2 linked regions of the Homo sapiens genome follow. The protein of the gene in region 1 purifies or fractionates together with the protein of each later gene. This does not show direct contact. Each region holds a gene or a part of one and is shown in the gene's direction. Other genes may lie near its edges.

Evidence for each region. The genes of interacting proteins can lie anywhere in the genome.
Region 2: the proteins of ZNF330 (region 1) and RAP1GAP purify together in Homo sapiens (affinity purification with mass spectrometry; one large-scale study listed by BioGRID and IntAct). This does not show direct contact.

What each region holds. Positions count from the first base shown.
Region 1 is NC_000004.12:141,226,368-141,231,855, forward strand, and holds part of ZNF330 (zinc finger protein 330), read left to right. Parts: intron 1-399; coding exon 400-479; intron 480-3,203; coding exon 3,204-3,330; intron 3,331-3,798; coding exon 3,799-3,903; intron 3,904-5,071; coding exon 5,072-5,118; intron 5,119-5,488.
Region 2 is NC_000001.11:21,603,358-21,607,851, reverse strand, and holds part of RAP1GAP (rap1 GTPase-activating protein 1), read left to right. Parts: intron 1-1,654; coding exon 1,655-1,786; intron 1,787-3,939; coding exon of another isoform or gene 3,940-4,194; intron 4,195-4,494. UniProt on the Homo sapiens protein: GTPase activator for the nuclear Ras-related regulatory protein RAP-1A (KREV-1), converting it to the putatively inactive GDP-bound state.

The sequences.
Region 1 (5,488 bases):
ATTGTGAATTATAAAATGTAAAATTTGTTATAAAAAGCATTCCTTTAAAAATTGTTTTGAATAATCTGAAGATTGATAAGTTTTTAAACTGTTAAAATGATCATTAGATTACAAAGCATAACCTGCAATTTCTGATTTAGTACAAATTAGCATATATATTGTATAGTTCATTTTACAGATTTATTAGTAAATGTATAATCTGAAAAGTCTGATTCGAGTAATGAAGTCTCAGTTATATCCATTTTCTCTTTCTAGTTATGTAAGCAGTAAATACTGATTCAATTTCATTAGTTTTTAAATTATTTCCTCAGGAACTTGGGCTGGATAAAAGGAGGAATTCGTGAGTACTGGTATGTATTCCTTTGCAAGACTAACAGTGCAAATGTTTTTCTTCATTAGGGAAAACAAAGTGCATGATGAAGTCTTCAGACTGTGTCATAAAGCATGCTGGTGTATACAGTACTGGCCTTGCAATGGTGGTAAGCTTCTTATTATCTCTTAGACTAGTACGTTTTCAAGGATAAGAAAATGTCATTCTGATCAGTGGTTATTTTTTTCTAAATATCATTGCTTTGTCCCTTGTTTCAATCAATCTGTAGTTATCTGGATTATGAGTGGCATGCTTTTTGTATGATTTTCCCTTAGTACCCACTTGTTTCTAGCTGCTTCTTTCTTTCTTATTAGGGAACATACAAGGCATGGAAACTTTTCATGCTGATCTAAACAGAATTTCATTTCTCAGTGGTACCTTTTTTTTTTTAAATTTTATTATTATTATTATACTTTAAGTTTTAGGGTACATGTGCACAACATGCAGGTTTGTTACATATGTATACATGTGCCATGTTGGTGTGGTGCACCCATTAACTCGTCATTTAGCATTAGGTATATCTCCTAATGCTATCCCTCCCCCATCCCCCCACCCCACAACAGTCCCCGGTTTGTGGTGTGTGATGTTCCCCTTCCTGTGTCCATGTGTTCTCATTGTTCAGTTCCCACCTATGAGTGAGAACATGCGGTGTTTGGTTTTTTGTCCTTGCGATAGTTTGCTAAGAATGATGGATTCCAGCTTCATCCGTGTCTCTACAAAGGACATGAACTCATCATTTTTTATGGCTGTATAGTATTCCATGGTGTATATGTGCCACATTTTCTTAATCCAGTCTATCATTGTTGGACATTTGGGTTGGTTCCAAGTCTTTGCTATTGTGAATAGTGCCACAATAAACATACGTGTGCATTTGTCTTTATAGCAGCATGATTTATAATCCTTTGGGTATATACTCAGTGGTACCTTTCTAATATCTCTTAACCAGACTTCACAAAACAGTATTTAGTGTACCGAAAGCCCTGCTTAACCAACGTTTAAGCCTTTGGTTAAATAAGCAACTTAGTTCCAAACGAACCTAGGATAATAGTGTTCTTTAAAACTTTACATTTCAAAAAAGTGTATATATTTAACATACCTCTTCATTACATATAGGATTTTTTAAAGTAAATTCAGCTTTTTGAATAATAAAACCAACTGGATTATGTGATGTATTTTGCTCTTTTTCCTGAAACATGTTTTCCTTCTAAATATGAGTTAACCAGTTTTACTGTATTGCAGTATGATTTTATGTTCAAATAAAATTTTGTTCAAATTTTAATCTATGAGGAAAATGATACTATATTTATGTCAAATGGAATATTTTATTTATGGTAAATTTCCAAGAACATGTAAACTTCTATTATGAGGGAGACCTATGATATATTTCATATGTGCATATATTATAGAAGCAAGGAGCGAGAATTATCATCTTGTGAATTGCTCTTTATTTTAAGTATAGGATTGTCAAGTTATCTTTATTCAAAAACACTTTCAGTCTTCCTTGGTAGCTTAAGTTCAGCCAAATTCATTTTTTAAAATCACTGTTTTTTGAATGTGAATAATTTCTTCTTACATAAAGAAAACATTTAAGTAGAGTCATATATCTTTAGTTGTAAATTCTAGAAAAGTGATTTTCTGGATATCTTCTATTTGCCTCCCCAGATTCCCCCTGAGAATAGCAGGAGAATAAGATCTGGGTGTTTATTCCTTCATCTCACTCCGTACCAGGTTATCCTGGTTTGGTTTTATCCTTTCTCTAAGGACCACAGTTCTCCCTATATGGCCAGGTAGTCCTCTCCTGTTTGTCCTAAGAACTTCCCTGTCCTCTGCAAATTATCTCTTTAAAACTCTTCTAGATTACCTAGTTTGAGAGTACCATCTCTTTTTTGCAAGAACCCTGGCTGATCCAAGAGATATAGTTGATGATTTGCTAGCTATACTGATAACCCATTTTTGCAAGTCAAAAAACATTCTTCCTATTTGTTGTTTACTACATTTGTTTCAGAGCCTTGAATAATAGAATACTGAATTGAGATTCTGAAATCCTGGCTTTAAATCTCACCTCACCTGTAATCCAACTCGGGACTTGGATTTAGTCTTGGGCCCCATGCTTTTCCTTTATAAAGGAAAGATTGTCTGATCCTACTCTCTTAAGATTCTTTCTAGCTTTTAATATTTGGTAGGTGTCAATGTTTTATTGAAACATATTGTTATTGTCTTTTCTTGATATAGAATTGGAGAATCTTACCCTGTATTTTAGTTCCATATATTTTACTTCAAATTTTTTCCACAAAGAAATGTAATTATTATTAAAACATAAGTTGTCATAAGAGAAAAAAAGAAGCTGGCAGAAGTTTCGTATTTCTCAGTAATTCTAGAAAAGCTATGCAAATATATAGATAAGAAGGTATTTTAAAAATCAGAAATGGTAGTATTTAAAAATTCAGTGTAGTTACAGGAATTATTATAGACAAGAAAGCTTAAGCTGTTGGTTCCTTCAAACTTTATTTGAATTAAATTCATTTTGAGGAAAATACTTCCATCTCTTTGGCTTAATTAAATAATATTAGGATAAGTGTACAGTTTACCTTTTTTTCTTTTGATATGTAACTGAGTTTTGTATATTGTGGATAGCTGTTAAGAAGTTGTTTTTCAGAGAACCCTTTTTATTTTTGGCTTAGAGTGAGTAGTAAAATGTTTAAATGAAGCGGCCTACTATCATTGAGGGTTGATAAATTGCTAAATGTATACAGTTTTGATGGTTGCCGTGGTTAAAGAATGGTTGCAGGTGGTCAGGTGATAATGATTATGTATTCTTGTTCCTTGGTTACAGGGTGCAATATGTGACTTCTGTGAAGCTTGGGTTTGCCATGGTAGGAAATGTCTCAGTACACATGCTTGTGCCTGCCCTCTTACCGATGCTGAGTGTGTTGAATGTGAACGAGGCGTGTGGGACCATGGTGAGTCATTAGACACAAGTAATGAGCTTTGTTATAGGTGAATGTTGACTTTGAAACATTTTGAATGCTGTTTTTGAGATTTTTTTCAGGATACTGTCAATCCTAACTACTGGTACTGTTTTGATTATCAGTGTAGTTAGAGAAGGGATCTATACTGTCTGTTATTGTCAATGCTAGTATTGTTTACCCAAACATGGAGGGAAGTTGTGGTGGAGCAGGTAGTCTCTTTGAGCATTGTGAGTGTTATATGGGTAGCTAGTGGAGAGTAAGAGCCCCCTTTTCTCAGTTTCAGTTCAGTTTCAAGGACTTCAACAGTTTTCATTTTAGCTTTTATCAGAATAAAAATGGCTGAACAATTTTGGTGTATCTCCAAAGTAACTTACCATCTCTTCTAAGCAGTATTATAGATATGAGTTTTTTTAAATTAAAGTTTATCTTAATTACATTTGTGTTTTTTTAATCCAATAGGAGGCAGAATATTCAGTTGTTCTTTTTGCCATAACTTTCTCTGTGAAGATGATCAATTTGAGCATCAAGCCAGCTGCCAGGTTTTAGAGGCAGAAACATTTAAATGTAAGTTTTTAAGTATTAGATGTTCTTTATACCCAAGATTCTGAATAGTATAATTATTAATCTTAATGAAAAAGGAATCAAGTTTTTTTATACTGCTTCTCATGAACTGTAATTTAACTCAGTCTTTATTTTCTGTTTCTAGAAAACAGAACAGTCAGAATATAGTTGTAAATTTTTCAGCAGGGATGCCAGTGGCATATTGGTTGGGCCAGTTTTTCATTTTGTAGGCTTGATTTGATCAGGCATTGCAGGACTTACACCTTTCGTGGTTCAGAGTACCACATGTCATTTTTACCTTCAAATTATTATAAAAAACCAAACCTCACCCTTCCTTCCCATTTCCAAATGCCCTCCCGTAAGAGATACCACCCTGTTTGTTTCTGCTAGTTGGTTCTAGTGATTCTTAGACAGGACTGTATATCAAAAATACCTGTGGAGGTTTTAAAAATAATGTAGATGTCCAGGCCTCATCCCTGGAGATTCTATCTTTTAAGTCCGTGGTGGGTGCCAGGCACCTGTATTTAACCTATACACAAAATTCTCACGTATTTTCCAGTTGAGAGCCAGCATTGCTGACTGGGTAATAGTATCATCTTTACACATAGTTTTTTTCTTGGAAGGTTCATTGAAATGAGACACCATATAAAACAATAGCATGTGGTACTTGGCATTTAAAAAGCCCTTTTTAAATAGTAGTTACTATTATAGGAAAAAGACCGAAATTCCCCAGGTATTCTCTTCCTTTAATTTGGTTCTTGTTCTGGTATGAAATCCTAATTATTATACTTATTTATAAATTTAAAGTAGATAAGTCATCTCTGTGATATACATACAACATACATACTACACACACATAGACACACAATGTGTATGCATGTGTATATAATTCTTGCAATATTTATATATAAAATTCTCAGATTAAAAGAGCATCTCGAAGTATATAGCATTTTTGAGCCTTTCGTCGCCTTTTGCAGAATGTATAATAATAAATTTAATTATTTTATTTGCAGCATGGGAGCTTTGTGTGTTTTATAGCATTTGAACCCAAAAGACAGGCAGCTGTCTATAAGGCTATATTCCATTGCAAGCTTTTAGTGATTTGATAAAAGACAAAAGAAAATTCTAAGAACCAAATAACGGGATTTTAAAATTAATCTATTTCCCACAGGTGTTTCATGCAATCGGCTTGGTCAGCACTCATGTCTCCGTTGTAAGGTATACCAATGCGTTTTTTTCTTTTTAGATTTTGTTTTTAATCTCTATACCCCTCCACCAGTCCTTGGCTTATATGCAGCTATAATTAATTTATAAGGGACCTTAAAATTATGTAGTCTAATTCTTTTATTTTTGAGACTGTGGAATTGAAGTTGAGAAAGCTTACATGACTTTCCAATGGTCATCCAGTCACCTTTTAGTAGAGCTGTGGCTAGTGCACATTTCTCTGGAATCCTGGCTCTGTGTTTTTAGTGGAGAACATTCTGACCAAGATGATGAGAGTCTATTTTAATTAATGTCAAAATATACCTGCTTAGAAGAGTTTGGGTAAAGATTTCCAAATTTTTCTGTGTCCTTAGGCCTAGTCTCT
Region 2 (4,494 bases), on another chromosome or scaffold:
GGAGGCTCTAGTCTGGGATGAGGGCGGGGCTCGAAGTGGACTTGGGCTTTAGAATGGGCTTACACTTGGGGACATAGTCTGCCTTGGGTAGAGTTTGAAGGAGCAGCATGTAAGGTGGGGCCCTGGCTTGGGGAGGAGTAACTGTTGGAGGTGGGGCCTAGGTGGGGAATTCACCTGGGAATTCTGCTGAAGGGTGGAGGATTCTGGGAGACAGCAAGGGCTGCTGGTACAAAGGCTGCTAGGTCAGCAGGAAGAGAAGAGAGGAAGAGGCTCTGTCTTGACTGAGGGAAAGAAATAGAGTTCTCAGAAGAGGTGTGTGAACCATGATCATTGGAGAGGGACTTGGCCTGTGTGACCTACCCTGCCTGTCCCTGGTTTAGCTTAGCATTAAGAGCACGGACACTTCAAATTTCAGCTCTGTTACTTACCAGCTTGGGCATTCTGTGAGCATCAGTTTCTTTATCTGTTGAGTAGGGTAATGGCAACTTGCCTCATACAGTTATTGTTATCTGTAAAAGAGTTAGGTTAGTGCAATACAAGTTTAAAAGCAAAATGCAAAACCTTGCCTGTCTGCCTCAGCAAATGTTGTCTGAAATGAGAAGTGTGGGGAGTGGAGTAGTTCCTGGACAGGGTCTGGACTCACTCAGGCCACAGGGCCCCAGGTGGTAGCCTTTTTGCCACCGTCTCCTCCACCCACAGGAGGATAACTGCCCATCCTCCAGCTTCCCGGCCGGCTGGTCACACCTCACCCTCAACCCAGGACAGGTCACACAGCTGGAGCTATGGGTTGGAATAAGGGAATTAGCCCGGCTGCCCAGGCCTGCCCAGGAACTGAGGTGAACAGATCGTCTTTGAGAAAGAGGCTTGGGGACTGGAGACAGGACAGGTGGGGTCAATATGGATCTGGGGTGTCTCCTTTGAGGAGGGCTCCGATGGTCCCACATCTGGTAGGTGCTGGACGGTGGACCTAGATTAGGTCAAAGAATTTCTCAGAAGCAGCGGAGTCCAGAGTTGAGGGCATGGGTCCTGGCATGCCGGGCTCACCCCTGCCTCAGTTGGCATGAAATGGGCATGATTGCTAGTCCCCATCTTGCAGGGGGATCCAGTGATAGAGTGATTGTAAAGCGCTGGTCCCATAGCAAGCATTTGGTGTAGATTGGTCTGAAAAAAACAAGGAAAGAGGGTGGGAGGGAAGAAAAGAAAGAAGGCAGGAGAGCTCTAAGAGGCCCTAACAGGAATGAAACTGAGGTGTCAAGAGGGCTCTCTGTGCACACTTTTGGCCATGACCCAGTGTCTTCTGCAGTCCTTACGCAGCCACATGAGGACACTCAGCACAGAGCAGCCTGTGTGTCCCAGAGAGTGAGAGAACTGAAGTGGTGTCCCCAAGGCCACCCGGCAAGTTGGTGGCAGAGCCAATACCTGAGCTACCCTTAGGCCCCGTATGTACCTGCTTCTCATGTGACGCACAGGGAAATTGAGGCCTGGCCCCACCTCCCTCTGTTGCCCTGCTGGCCACATGCCCAGGGGAAGGGATTTCCAGGGCTTACCCAGAGTGGCATTGCTGGGGAGAGACCAGATGCCTGGGCTCCTGGGTTTCCCCAAGGGGACGGCCCTTAGGAATCCTGTGCCTCCTCCACTGCCACCCCCTTCACAGCGGGTCATCCGGAGCCGCAGCCAGTCCATGGATGCCATGGGGCTGAGCAACAAGAAGCCCAACACCGTGTCCACCAGCCACAGCGGGAGCTTCGCGCCCAACAACCCCGACCTGGCCAAGGCGGCTGGAATAGTGAGTGCCCTCCCCCTCCCCAGGCCCCGGCCCCTCCCTGGGGGGCCCTCAGCTCTCCTCTGCCTCCTGAGGCCTGACTCCAACTCTCTCTGTTGCCCTGCTGCCCACATGCCCATCCTAGGCTCTGGATTTGGTCTAGCCACTACTTTCCATGGGAGGGGGGTGAAGTGCCCAGGCCAGGACACTGCGGTGCTGACAGCTTGCAGCCTGCAGCCCCTTCCCAAGCTCCTTGGCCCTCCCCTCCTCCTGGCCCTTTATGCATTGAGGTGTGACTTCCTGCAGGTCAGCCCTGGGACAGCCTCTGTGTCTCATTCCTTATTGAGTATCTATCTGTTTGCTGGGGACTGGGCTGCTGTGTGGGCACCTACTGTCAAGCCTTGGGTTTCTGGGAGCACCTACTGTGTGTCGGGCTGTGGGCACCCACTGTGTGTCAGGCCCTGGGCTGCTGTGTGGACATGCACTCTGTGAGCATCTACTGTGGGCCTGGCCCTGAGTACCTGTGAGCACCCACTGTGTGTCAGGTCCTGGGCTGCTGTGTGGGCATCAACTCTGTGAGCGCCTACTGTGTGCGCAGCCCTGGGCTGCTGTGTGAGAACCTACTGTGTGTCAGAAAATGGACTGCTATGTGAGCACATCGTGTGTGATAAGCCCTAGATGTCAGTGAACACCTACTGTGTGTCAGGAAGTGAGCTGTTGTGTGGGTACTTTCTCTGTGAGCACCTCCTACTGTGTGTCCGCAGCAGCCAGGGCCTCTGTGGTGTGGCTGCCTATTGTGTGTCGGGAATCTGGCTTCTGTGTGAGCATCTCCAGAGGGAGCACCTCCTGTGTGATCACTGACTGTTGTCCAGGTTCTGGGATTCTGCTGCTCACACTCAGGAGTGCTGGGCACATGGATGAATACGGCCTATGGCTGTGGGCCTCACTGCTGTCCACTGCCTAGTGGCCACCCCAGGACACTGCACCCACTGCTGTGCTCCCCACCCATCCATCCAGCCACCCATCCATCCACCCACCCATCCATCCATCCACCCACCCATCCACCCATCTAGCTATCCACCCACCCACCCATCCACCCACCTACCCATCTACCCATCCACCCACCCACCCACTCATCCATCCACCCACCCATCCACCCACCCATCCACCCATCAATCCATCCATCCACCCACCCATCCACCCATCCATCCATCCATCCATCCATCCATCCATCCATCCATCCATCTCTATCCATCCCTCTATCTCCATCCATCCATCCACCCACCCACCGATCCATCCATCCATCCATCCATCCTTTATTGACTGTCTACTGCATGCCAAGCCCTGCGCTCAGTGCTGTGAGGCTATGTCACGTGGCAGGAGGGAATTCCCCGACCTCTGCTGTCCAGCAGTCACCAAGCACACTGTCATGCGAGGAGCAGGCCCAACCTCCCCCAACCCAGTTTTATCAACCACTCCCTTCCTCTCCACCAGAGTGACCCAGCCTCCTGTGGGTGGCCGAGAGGGGCCCCAGGGACAGGACCAGGCCAGCAGCACCCACCATGGCAGTAACCGGACCCATTTCTGTTTTGTTTTTGCACAACTCTCCCTCTCTCTGTGTTTCCTCCTTTCATTCTACTCTCTCTCCTTGTTTTTTTGTTCCCTCCTCCCTTCCCTTTCCCCGTCCTGTGGCCTCTCTGCCCTTTGGCTCTCTGTTTCTCCTTCCTTCTTGCACCTGTCTTTTTTGCTCCCTCTCCTCCTTCCCTTCTCCGCTCTTCTCACCCTCGCTTTTTCCTTTCGGCCTTCCCCTGGCTTCCTTCTCTGTCTCTGACCCTCCCTGGGCCTGTGTCTGTGTCCTTGCGTCCCTGTCTCTCTGGATTTCCCTCTGTGCCCATCTGGTGTGCCCTCGCTGGCTCACGCGTGTCCCTGTCTCCGGGTAACTGTCTGTCCATCTCTCCCCCGTCTCCCTTGTCCTCTGTCTCTCCTTGTGCTTCTCGCCTTCCTTTCCCCGGCCCTATCTCTCCCATTGCCTCCTGCACCGTTCTCTTCCTTTTTCTGTCTGTCTTCCTCCTTTCCCTGCCTCTCCTCCTCTCTGTGTCTCCCTCCCACCATCTCTCTTGCTCTCTGACTCTCTCTCTGTCTCTCTCTCTCTGCCCCCGCCCTCTGCTGCTTGCCAGTCATTGCTTATTCCTGGGAAAAGTGCGAGTAGATTCGGACGCCGGGGCAGTGCCATAGGCATAGGAACCGTGGAAGAGGTTGTCGTCCGCGGGGCCGCCGGCTCTGGAGGCTGCCTGCACGCGCTGTTCTCTGCTCGCTCTCAGGACGGAGGCCATATTGGGGACGTTGCCCCTCTGCCCCCGGGACAGGCCCCAGGGCGTGCGGGATGGAGTGGCGGCAGCTCCGATGGCACTCAGCACCTGCTTTGGGGCCTGGTACCTGTGCCAGAGCCAGTGCCCCTCACCAGGGGCTTCTGGCCCTGCCTTGGCCCCTGGGACCCTGGCCCAGTCCCTGCCAGGATCCGGTACCCAAAGGCCCTACACCCAGCCGCACGTCCCCCAATATCGCCGGTCTGCATGGAGCGCCATCCCTCTCCTCTGCCCTGACTCCTCCTCCCCGCCACGAAGTGACCTGGGGTCCTACCCCTTCCTGCCTCCAGAGAAGCTGGGGGCGGGCTTCTGGGGCCTGGGGCATCCCAGCACAGTGTGTGGGAAGCTGGGGGAGTCTTCCAGCTG